Regions from separate parts of the Homo sapiens genome. Here region 2 is linked to region 1. Evidence: fine-mapped expression QTL. A gene starts in region 1. The other region holds a variant in brackets. All regions are shown on one strand. Distances are from middle to middle.

What was found. PIP is the estimated chance that this variant, and not a neighbour inherited with it, causes the effect. A credible set is the group of variants that fine-mapping cannot tell apart.
Region 2: its variant is the best candidate, but not a certain one, in a credible set for the expression of SLC12A5 in hippocampus (GTEx, PIP 0.62).

Annotation. Positions count from the first base shown.
Region 1 is chr20:46,026,688-46,032,052 of GRCh38, forward strand. It overlaps SLC12A5 (solute carrier family 12 member 5), which reads left to right and starts at 2,528. Exons shown (of 26, transcript NM_020708.5): 1 at 2,528-2,709. The coding sequence starts at 2,658.
Region 2 is chr20:46,049,448-46,054,812 of GRCh38, forward strand. It overlaps SLC12A5 (solute carrier family 12 member 5), which reads left to right. Exons shown (of 26, transcript NM_020708.5): 17 at 175-343; 18 at 2,228-2,423; 19 at 3,510-3,679; 20 at 4,131-4,262. Among named protein-coding and RNA genes, the nearest start is that of SLC12A5, 23 kb to the left of the region's middle. The variant G/A (reference allele first, on the strand shown) is at 2,767.

The sequences.
Region 1 (5,365 bases):
TCATTTTTACAGACGGGATACTGAGGCCCACAGAGAGGAACCTGATTTTGCCCAGAGATACACAGAGAATTTGGGGGCAGAGGATATGACAGAACCACTATCTCCTGAATCTCAGATGGCTCTTGAGATGGGAACTCTAGTGAAGGTGGACAGATGGGTTCCCCAGGGAAAGAGGAATCACTCCTGCCTTCACCCGTACTCCCTAGAATCTAGGTTTCCCCATGCATGGGCTTAGTCTCTGAGTGGCCAAAGCTGGACCACAAATGAAGGAAAATAACCCCAGGGGAACATGCCAGACCTAGGATTACTGAAAAACCTTAGCATCTCCTTCATTCTACAGCACTTCTCTGACAAACATGCTACACGTGTTTTACTGTTATGCATCTCTGCAGAGTAGTAGAACACAGTGCTGCTGCTGCTGCTAGTGCTGTGTGTGTGTAGAGTGGAGTGGCATGCTTAAAAATTTTTGAACACTGGCTTCTTTTAACCTCTGTCACCAATTCAAACTCATCTCACCCTTTTGGTGGTTTTTTTCTCTGGGAGAGCCAAGAATACCAGTGCCCACAACTTGTCTGAATAGCTAACTCTCCACCCTGAAAGGTCCTTTGGGTATCCAAAAAACCAAGTGGCAGCGATACTTGATTGGTAGGTCCCTCAGAGGCACTTTTGAGTCAGCTGCTGAAAACTCCACGGTTGACCCAATCTGAAGCCACTGACAAATTGTATTAATACAAGTAAAGCTGAGCCCTGGATCCTGTCCATGGTCCTGAAAAAAGTCCTGTCCTATACCCCGGTCTCCAGGGATATGAATGGCTCTTTAGGATTTTTGCAGGTTTTCTGGAGGCTTCCCCTTCAGTTGCAAGCCAAGAGTCCATTCTAGCCCTGCACCTCTGAAGCCTGAGCACAAGAAAAGGAATAAAGCACATCTCAGATGTAGTGCCTGTTTGTTTGTTTGTTTGTTTGTTTGTTTTTCAGGAGCTAATAATCAGAGGCTGCTGAGGGGCATGGATATGACTGCATCCTTGTCTCTTCTATGGAGGCAAGACGACTTTTATAAGTTCTATCAATGAAGAGAGTCCTAAACTGGAGTAAAGCAAACTGGATGCTAGACCAAATTCTGCCATCCACTGGCATTATGTCCACAGGCAGTCATTTTCCCTCTATGGGCCTTAGTTTTTTCATCTGTGAAATGAAAGCTGTGTGTAAGATACAATGACTGATCTTTTCCCAACCGAAGAACTTTTCTGGAACTTAGAGAGCCAGGGAGAGAGCTAGTACCAGTGTGAAGATTGTTTACCCCGATCTGCTCCCACCCTCAGATGTTTAGATCTTCTAGAGACTCAAAGCTTTCAAACCTCTGATGCCACTTCCTGAGATGTCTGCACCACTGGCTCAAACCTGGACTCTAGGGGCTCTGAGGGGTCCCAGGATGATCAAGCTTCTGGGGGATTGGCCTAAGGGAAGAGGGGAGGAGGACAGAGAGCATGTCGGCTCTGGAAGCCTCAGAAAGCAATCCTGGATTAGGGGATTAGACACTTCTGCCCCAGGAGAAAATCTGGTCTCAAACCGACAGGCGGCCTCATTCCGCCCTCCCCCACTCTGTCCCTGGCCAGCCTCAGGACCGGCCTGTCCTCCCTAGAGGCTGCACCATCCCTGATGGAAAGTCAGTGCTCCCTGGAAACTCACTGCTGCCTCTTCTGCTCCTCCTCACCAGGTCTTATCTCTAGATCAGTCCGCAGTCAGAAGGTCCCTGGCTGTGGGCTCCAGGGACTTGTCTTGGGGGTGGGACGCTGGGACTCTTGTCAGTCTAAGCACAATGAGAGAGTTCCTTGGAACTTCTCAGGCGCTACCCCACCCATTTTAAGACAGATTGGGTCAGTCAGCCCAGTGACCTGAACGCCCCTGGGGGTAGCACATTGCTTAATTATGGGCCCTGGGCTCTACATGCCTCCAGCTCCAATCTCTTGAGCAGTGGTATGAAAGAGGGTCTGGTTCTCCTCCCCCACTTCAGGGCTGGCCTCTCCAGTCTTGCAGAGAGGCTTCCCAAGGGCCCCATGTTCCATGGCGCACCTCCACGGCCACTTCAGTGCCCTTTATCTTCCCCCTGGGGGTTACCCCAGACCCCCAGTCAAGCAGCCGCTGCGGGGCCGCCTCCCCGCGGCCGCGACCTAGTTCCCTGCCGTTATTTTTAGGGCGCGGGATGGCACCTGCCCACGTGCCGGGCCCCGCCCGGAGAGTGGGTGGGGGGAGCTGCGTCTGCTCAAGGGAGGCGAGGCCCTGTCCCCCGAAGCACCCCCTTCATCCCACCCACGCAATCCCCCAGTTTTTGTGCAAGGGGGCCACTAGTCGGGCTCTGCCCGCCCCTCATCTTCTCTTCTCTCTCCCTCCCGCTCTCCCCCCAAAACCCCGCCAGTGGCTCACGCCTCCTGCATACGGGATGAGGTGAGCAGCGCCGCTGCTGAGAGGGGGCGCGCGCGGGTGTGAGCGTGTGTCCGTGTGCGAGTGTGTGTGCGCCGGGCGGGCGGGCACTGCAGCTTCTTCCTCCGTGGAGCGGAGAGCGAGACAGAGCTACAGCGAACGAGAGAGCGGCGAAGGCGGGTAGAGGGGCGCGGGCGAGGCGGCGCAGCCATCCCCGGACCAGGGGCCGCGCCGCCACCATGCTAAACAACCTGACGGACTGCGAGGACGGCGATGGGGGAGCCAACCCGGGTAAGCTGTGGTCCGGGGGCGGCGGGGGAGGGGGCAGCGAGGAGAGGAGGCAGCTCTGGGGTTAGAGGCGGAGCGGGGGCCACCTCCTTCAGAGAGGAGGCTGGGACTGACCCGGGCGGTGGGCGCCAGTTGCAGCCTGGAGCTCAGCTCCATTGGAATGCTCCGGGCGCTGTCCAAGGTGCTGGAATGCGCCGCGCCCGGGGGCAGAGCTGCGGGCCGGGGGATTATCGCTGCCCACGGCTTCGGGCTGACTTGGGTTAGCTAAACCGAGGAGGCGGTGGGAAGGGGATAGAAGACCTAGAATGGGCTGATGTGGAGCTCGACGGCGGGAGGAGGGCTCCTTTCCCCGACAGGGGACCCCGGCGTCCTGGCGCAGAGCAGGCACCCGTGGAGCCGGGGGGCGCAGTCTGCTGCAGTCCCTCGTTCTAAGACTTCCATCTGGAAGATGGGGGAAGAGGTGGCTGTGTGTGTGTGTGTGTGTGTGTGTGTGTGTGCGCGCGCGTGCGTATGTGTGTGTGTGCGTGTGTGTGTGTGTGTGTGTGTGTAGGGGGTTTGGAGCCATATGACAGCCCCCCGTCCGGGCTGTGGTGTCTCCTTAAGACACCCAGATTGTCCCCTTGGTGCAATCTGGGACCCCTCCCCCAAGGCTTCCCAAGGTCCGACCTCAGACTGAAGCGTACTTCCTCCATAGATTTTCAGCTCTACTTTGCAGAATCTCTCTCTCGCTTTCCCGTGGGTTCCTATTCAGGACGGGAAGCAAGATCACCCTCCTTTCTTCCCTCTTTCCCCCTCCTCTCAGTTCCCTGGGGCGGTCCAGGGCGGGGCGGGGGGGAGTCTTTTTAGTTAGCTCTGCTAGCTTCCCCAGTGAGGCCTCAGAAATGGGGTCCCAGTGGCTGATTCCTCAGCGCCGCGACGCGGACACTGCGGACGCGCTGCGGTGGGTGCGGAGACTCGCAAGGAGCCGAGGGGCTTGGGACAAGTCCTTTCGCTGCTCCCGCTCTCCCCCGCCCTCCTCCGCGGCTTCCTTGCTCCGAGGTCTTGGGGCCAGCCACCCCCTCAGGCTCCCAGGCCCCCCGCCGCCCCCGAGCGGTCTCAGCCATCCATCACGGCTGTCAGCCACCCCCACCCCCCACTCTCCAGCGGCGCTGCGTCCCCTGCGCACTAGCGCGCCTCCCGCGCCTGCTGTCTGCGCTCAGCGCCTTCAAACGTTCCCCTGGGCACTGCTTGACCCTATGAGCCTAGACTCCCGCAGATCCCTCTGGCGGATGGCGCCTAGGGCTGAAAGAGCAGGGTCTTCTAGGGATTGGCAACCTTGACTCTGAGGTCCTCCGGATCCTGGATCTCAGGGCCAAGTGGCCGCTTGGAAAGGCTGGGGACACCAGGGTCCCTGATCCTTTGTCTGACTCCCCCCCACCCCCCGCCGCTTCCCGCAACTCCTCATTCCTCCTGGGGGCTGAGTGGTATACAGGTGCCAGAACTCCTAGCTGGCCCTCTCATCCACCTCCCCAGTGACCCTGGGATCACCTCATCCAGCATCCGCCCCCTCCCCCGCGGGCTTCTGGCCGGAGGGGGAGGGGGTTTGGCAAAGTTGAGTCTGCGGCAGCGCCAGGCATCCCGACGCGGATCTTTCCATCCGGGATCCCCTTCAGATGCCTCCACTCTGAGAGGGGGACTCAGATGGAGAGCATCTCTCTGTTCCCTCAGACACCAGGTATGGTCCCATTTCCCAGCACCCGCTTTCTCTGCCAAGGTTTCACCAGGCCTTGGGGTTTCCACAGGGGCTCAGGAGGCCTAGAAAAGAGGCATCAGTGTGTGTGAGGCAAGAGTTGAACTAGGAACTCGCTTCAGTTCTATCCCCTCTCCGTTAGTTTCTAGACACTGAGTGCAGCGGACCCATCTGGAGACCTTCTTTCTATACATAGGGTCCAGGACCTGGAACTCAAATGGCCAGAACCTGGGTCATGTGCTGTGGGTCCCAGAGAGAGAAGTCCCCCCTCCTCCAAGCGGTGCTTGGAGATGGTAGTAGGAGGTGCTAAGGACCTTCTGGGCTTGAGAGAGGACCATCAGGCCAAGAGCCCCTGACATCTCTGATTCTAGATTCTTGGGGATGTACGGGAAGGAACTGGTTGCTGACCTCGGGCAGGTGGGGATGACCCGAGCAAGAGGGCACTTCTGGACTAAAGAAGAGCCCAGGGATGTGTCCCGGTCTTCTTTCTCCTTGGGGTCTGACGCCCCGTCTCCCTCTCGGACCTGGCCTAGGGATTCCCCCAGGCCCAGCCCCAGGCCCCGGGGAGGCTTCTTAGCCTGCGCCGCTCGCCTGTTTCCTCCCCGGGAGCTCTGGCCGCCGCAGCTTAATTGAAAGCCGATTCGGGTTGAGAGCTCCCAGGGGGCGGGGGCGGGGAGGGCTCAGCCTCAGTCTGGCCCTGCCTCTCGCGCGCGCGCCGCTCGGCGCTCCCGCCATCACCCTTACTCCTTGGCTCCGGGGAATCAGGGCGAGTTTCCCCTTAGCTGTTCTGGTCCTTTGAGAACTCGGAAGCTCATTCCCCATCCCCCTCAACCAGTGCGCCTGGCGTTCAGGGAGGGGACGAAATCAGCCCTGGCTGACAAGTCCCGGGAGCCTGGCGTCCCGCCCAGGCAGCTACTGGAAAGGCGGGAC
Region 2 (5,365 bases), 23 kb after region 1:
GGTGAATGGAGAAATGGGTTGATGGGTAGATGAATGGATGGGTGGTGAGGGGTATAGGTGGATGGGACAGATGGTTATAGAGGAGAGATGGCTAGATGACCTGGTGGTGGGTGTATGGTGTGTGGATGGTTGGTTACATGGTATATGGATTATGTGACTCTGCACACTCTTCAGGCCACAGCTGCTGGTGCTGGTGCGTGTGGACCAAGACCAGAATGTGGTGCACCCCCAGCTGCTCTCACTGACCTCCCAGCTGAAGGCGGGGAAGGGCCTGACCATCGTGGGCTCTGTCCTTGAGGGCACCTTTCTGGAAAATCATCCACAGGCCCAGCGGGCAGAAGAGGTGAGCAGAGGCCCTGGTTGGGCTTGGGAAAAGGTCAGGACACTTAGGAAGACAGTCTCTATCCTTTTGTACTTTCCTTCCTCATCACCTTCAGGATCAAAGGAAGTGCAGGCATTTCTTTTCTTTTCCTTAGAGGAAGAGCCTAAGAGCCTAGACAGTGAGTTCTTTAGAATTCAACTCACAGCATGAAAGACCATCAGAGGCAGAAGGGCCCATTTTATGGATAAGGAAACTGAGGCTTAGACAAGTCAGGTCATATGTCTAAGGACAGAAAATGAAGATTCAAATTAGGACTCCTTGAACTCCTACTCTAGACTCCTTCCTGCCAAAGTATAAATCTTTCAAGGTGATTTCCCAGCTGTGGACTCTTGATCCCTACAGTCTGGGGTTGACAAGGTGAGTATCCACATTTGATACAGGAAGAAACTGAGACCCAGAGAGGGAAAGCTGCTTGCTGAAAGTCGGAAAGCTGCTTGCTGAAAGTCAGAAAGCTGGTGGGAAGCAACATCAGGATTTGAACTCAGGCCCCTGCTCTGTGTCACCTGCTCTTGGTTCCACCCACTAGTCCATGCTTACAGGGCAGCCTACAGAACCAATGTGGGCTGTGGTGGCCAGTGTCTGCCTTAAGCACACAAAGAGGTGATTGGATCCCAAGGGTAGTAGAGGAAGTAGGTTCTGTCTGAGGGTCAGGCCTTTCTCCCATCAGGGCTGTGGCTAGCAGTGGAGAGAGAAAAAGAGGCCCGAAGGAGCAGAGGTGAGATGGGGAGGGGCACCCCGATGGCTTGCGACAGTCGCTGCTTCTGCCTCACTGGGCTGTTCACACTGATCTGTCAGGGCCCAGAGCTGGAGGCCTTGACTGGTCAGTTCCATTCAACACGCGGTGGCTGAGAATGTGCAGTGCACCAGGCACTGGGCGAGGCACAGGGGAGATGGAGATGTTCAAGACCAAGTCCCAGCCCTCGAGGTGCTCACAGGCTGGTGGGGAAGGCAGAGCATACACAGAAGGCTCTCAGACCCACCGGATGTCGATAAATGCTGTTAGAGTTAATAACATCAGGGTCGTACAATGTGTTGAGTGTTTTCAATTCCTCAGGCAGGATACTAACTAAGCCCTATGTGCATGATGACATGTGGTTCTCCCTATTCCTAAACAAGGTAGCTTGTCCTGACCCCTTGGGTGGTTAGGTGACTCACCCAAGGTCACACAGCCAGGAGGTGGCAGAGATAGGAGTTGAACTTCTATCTGTTTGACTTAGGGGTGGTGGTTAAGAGTGTGGGGGTTGGAGTCAGACTTCCCTGACTTGAATCCTCACAGTAACATTAGCTGTGTGTCCTTAAACAAGTCTTCCTTTCTCCAAGCCTCAGTTTCCCCATCTATAAAATGGGAGTAATAAGACTATTTCCCTCATAGTACAGTTTAAATGGGAGCCCTTAAAATACTTATTATGCTACTTAGAAAGATTGTTGAAACAAATTGTCTGGCTGTGCAGAGAAGCCCAGTTTAATTCTGGTCTGGGTGGGGGTGGTATCTGAAGACGGCGACATTTGAGCTGGGCCAGACAGGGTGTCATGTACAACTTGGCAGGGGCTTGTGTCAGGGTGATGGTGGAGAGCATGTCGGGCAGGGGGGCTGTATGAGCAGTGGGAGGGTGGCAGAAAGTGTGGTCAGATCATGAAGAGCCTTGATTGATCAAGAAGGAATGGGGCACAGAGATGATGGGGAGCCATGTGCCATTCTGGAGCCAGAGACTGACGTGATCAGAGCTGAGCTTCAGGAAGATTGGGATGAAAGGAGGGGAGAGATGGGAGGGAAGGAGGCTACAATGGGCCCAGCCAGGGCCAGGGAGGCCTGAGGCTGGTCCTTGTCTTTTCCCCCTCCCCTAGTCTATCAGGCGCCTGATGGAGGCAGAGAAGGTGAAGGGCTTCTGCCAGGTGGTGATCTCCTCCAACTTGCGTGATGGCGTGTCCCATCTGATCCAGTCCGGGGGCCTCGGGGGGCTGCAGCACAACACTGTGCTTGTTGGCTGGCCCCGCAACTGGCGCCAGAAGGAAGATCATCAGACGTGGAGGAACTTCATTGGTAACGCTATTGGGGGCTGGGGACAGAAGAGGGGTGGGGCTGGGGGCTGTAGAGGGGTGGAACTGGATTTCCGCTCCTTTGGGCCTGAGGGGTTTCCCAAGCACTGCGTGCCAAGTGTGGATTCAGCATATGCAGGTGACAGCAGTCAAGGCTGGCCACGTGCCAGCCACTGTGCTGGGCGCTGGGGACTCCGCTGTGAACGAGACAGTCTTGGCTCCTGCAGCGCTCACAGGCCCTGGGAGGAACACAGTGCAGGGCAGTGGGAAGAGCTACAGCTCTGAAGTCACAGAGGCTAGGCCCACATCTCAGCTCTGGTCCTTCCTAGCTGTGTGACTGTGCACAC[G/A]TGACTCACTCCCTCTGAGATCAGATTTCTTGGTAATCGTAGGTAATAGTATATATAATAACTAACGTTTCTAGAATGAGTTCTGTGTGCCAGCAAGTTAAGGCTTTCTCTGATTCTCTCATCAGTCCTAGGAGGGCTACGCATTGTTATCTCCATCTTTTTTGATGTGAAACTGAGGCACAGAGAGATTAAGAAGTTTGCTCCAGCTGGGTTCGGTGGCTCACGCCTGTAATCCCAGCACTTTGGGAAGCCAAGGCAGGTGGATCGCTTGCGCTCAGGAGTTTGAGCTGGGCAACCTGGCAAACTACAGAGTAAATGAAAAAGAAGTTTGCTCCAAGTCACAAAGTGGGGAGCCAGGTTTTGAACCAGCCCGGAGGCTACACTGTTAGCTCCAAGCTATTCTGTCTCCTTTATAGGTAGATCATGGTTACAAGGTGTTGGGAGGATTCAGTGTGGTCATACATGATGGGCTCTTAGTAATCAGAAAGGGCAGGTGGTGTTATTGCCATTTGACAGGTGGGGAAACTGAGGCCTAGAGAGGTTGATAGACGTTCCTAGATCTAAACAATAAATATATGATGGGGCCCAAGTAGATGCTGGTTTTCTGACCACTCAGCCCATGGCCAAGGCCAGTTGGAGTGGGGTGGAGTGCTGGCTGCCAGGAGCCCTTGTGGCTGCTGCTGGGTGTTGGGAGAACCAGAGTCACTGTTTCCCCCTCTGGCCCTCTCCTTGGCCTCCCTCAGAGCTGGTCCGGGAAACCACAGCTGGCCACTTAGCCCTGCTGGTCACCAAGAACGTTTCCATGTTTCCTGGGAACCCTGAGCGCTTCTCTGAGGGCAGCATCGACGTTTGGTGGATTGTGCACGATGGAGGCATGCTCATGCTGCTGCCCTTCCTGCTGCGGCACCACAAGGTGAGTTGTGTGCGTGAGTGTATGCACGTGTGAGTGTGTGTATGCATGTATGCATTTGTGTGCATATGTGCACAACTGCAGGTCAGACTCAGGGGCTCTGGCCAGGGTCAGCTTCCGTGTCCTTCCTCCCCTGTAAACTCCTGGGAAAGGGATCTGCTGACCTACTTCATTCTGAGATGTTAGGAACTGATGGTTTCTCCTCTTGCAGGTGCACTGCTGTAAGGAGAGCAATGCTTAGCCCAAGCCAGTGATGCTTTCTTTAATGGGGGACCCTCAGACCTAAGCAGGGAAGGTTTTGTAGAGAGTGGCCCCAAAGACAGAGGATTTGGGGTCTGCATGTATGTGTGAGGAGTGGGTGGGAAGAGGGGAAGGGTGAGCGGACAGGGCCTGGCCCTGGATCTCCTCATCACATCTGGGCTGGACCTTTCTGAATCCCCTTCATCGCCTGCAGGTCTGGCGGAAGTGCAAGATGCGTATCTTCACTGTGGCCCAGATGGATGACAATAGCATCCAGATGAAGAAGGATCTGACCACATTTCTGTATCATTTACGCATCACTGCGGAGGTCGAGGTGGTGGAGATGGTGAGTCCCCAGGAGACACCGCTGGGGTTCCACCTGGCCCTCTTTCCTCTTGGCCCCAGCACCAAGTAGGGCAACTCTAACACCCATCAGCTTATGATGCTGGATCCTTTCCCCCTCATCCATCTCTTAGCCTCTCACATATTCAGCCATCCCTCCCTTCTCTATAAAAGTAGCCATGTCTAGTGCTTATTATATGCCAGGCACTGTTCTATGCACTTTATATGTACATAAATTCCAACAACGACCAATGAGATAGATACAATTATCAGCATTTCCATGTTACAGATTAGGAATATGAAGTGCAGAGAAGTACAGTCACGTATTCATTGCTTAACAACAGGGATATGTTCTGAGAAATGTGTTGTGAGGTGATTTTGTTGTGTGAACATCATAGAGTGTATTTATGCACACCTAGCTGGTACAGCCTACTACACACAAAGGCTTATTGCTCTTATGCTACAGACTTATACAGCATGTTACTCTACTGAGTACTGTAGGCAATGGCAACACAGTGGGAAGTATTTGTGTGTCTAAACATATCTAAACATAGAAAAAATACAGCAAAAATACAGTAATCTTAAGGGAACACCATTTTATGTGCAGTCTGCCATTGACGCACATACAATGGTGTTATTTGGCATATGACTGTAATTTGCCCAATAACACAGAGTACCTGGTGGAGGCAGGATTCAAACCCAGGCAGGCTGGCTCTAGAGCGTGTGCCCCTGGTGATTATCCTGTAGAGCATCTTGTCCAACCATCCTCTCAATTCATGTGTCCATCCACCCATCCCTCTGTGTTTTCATTAATCTACCCATGTATTCATTGAAGTATTCATTCACTCACTCTCCCATTCATTCTTGCATGTATTCATTCATCGCTTTGTTCTTTTTCTTCTTTCCCTTCTCCATTCACCCAGGTGATTAATTAATCCACTCATTCATTAGTTCATCCATTCATATGCCTGGTCCTGTGCTGGGCTGAGGAGGGAATGAGCTGCCTGCCTTGCAAGAGCATTGCCCTCTCTGCTACGTCCTTGCCTCCTACAACCCTTGACAAAATTAATGATTGGGTAGGGAAGCCCTAGGCTGCCAGAAGGACGG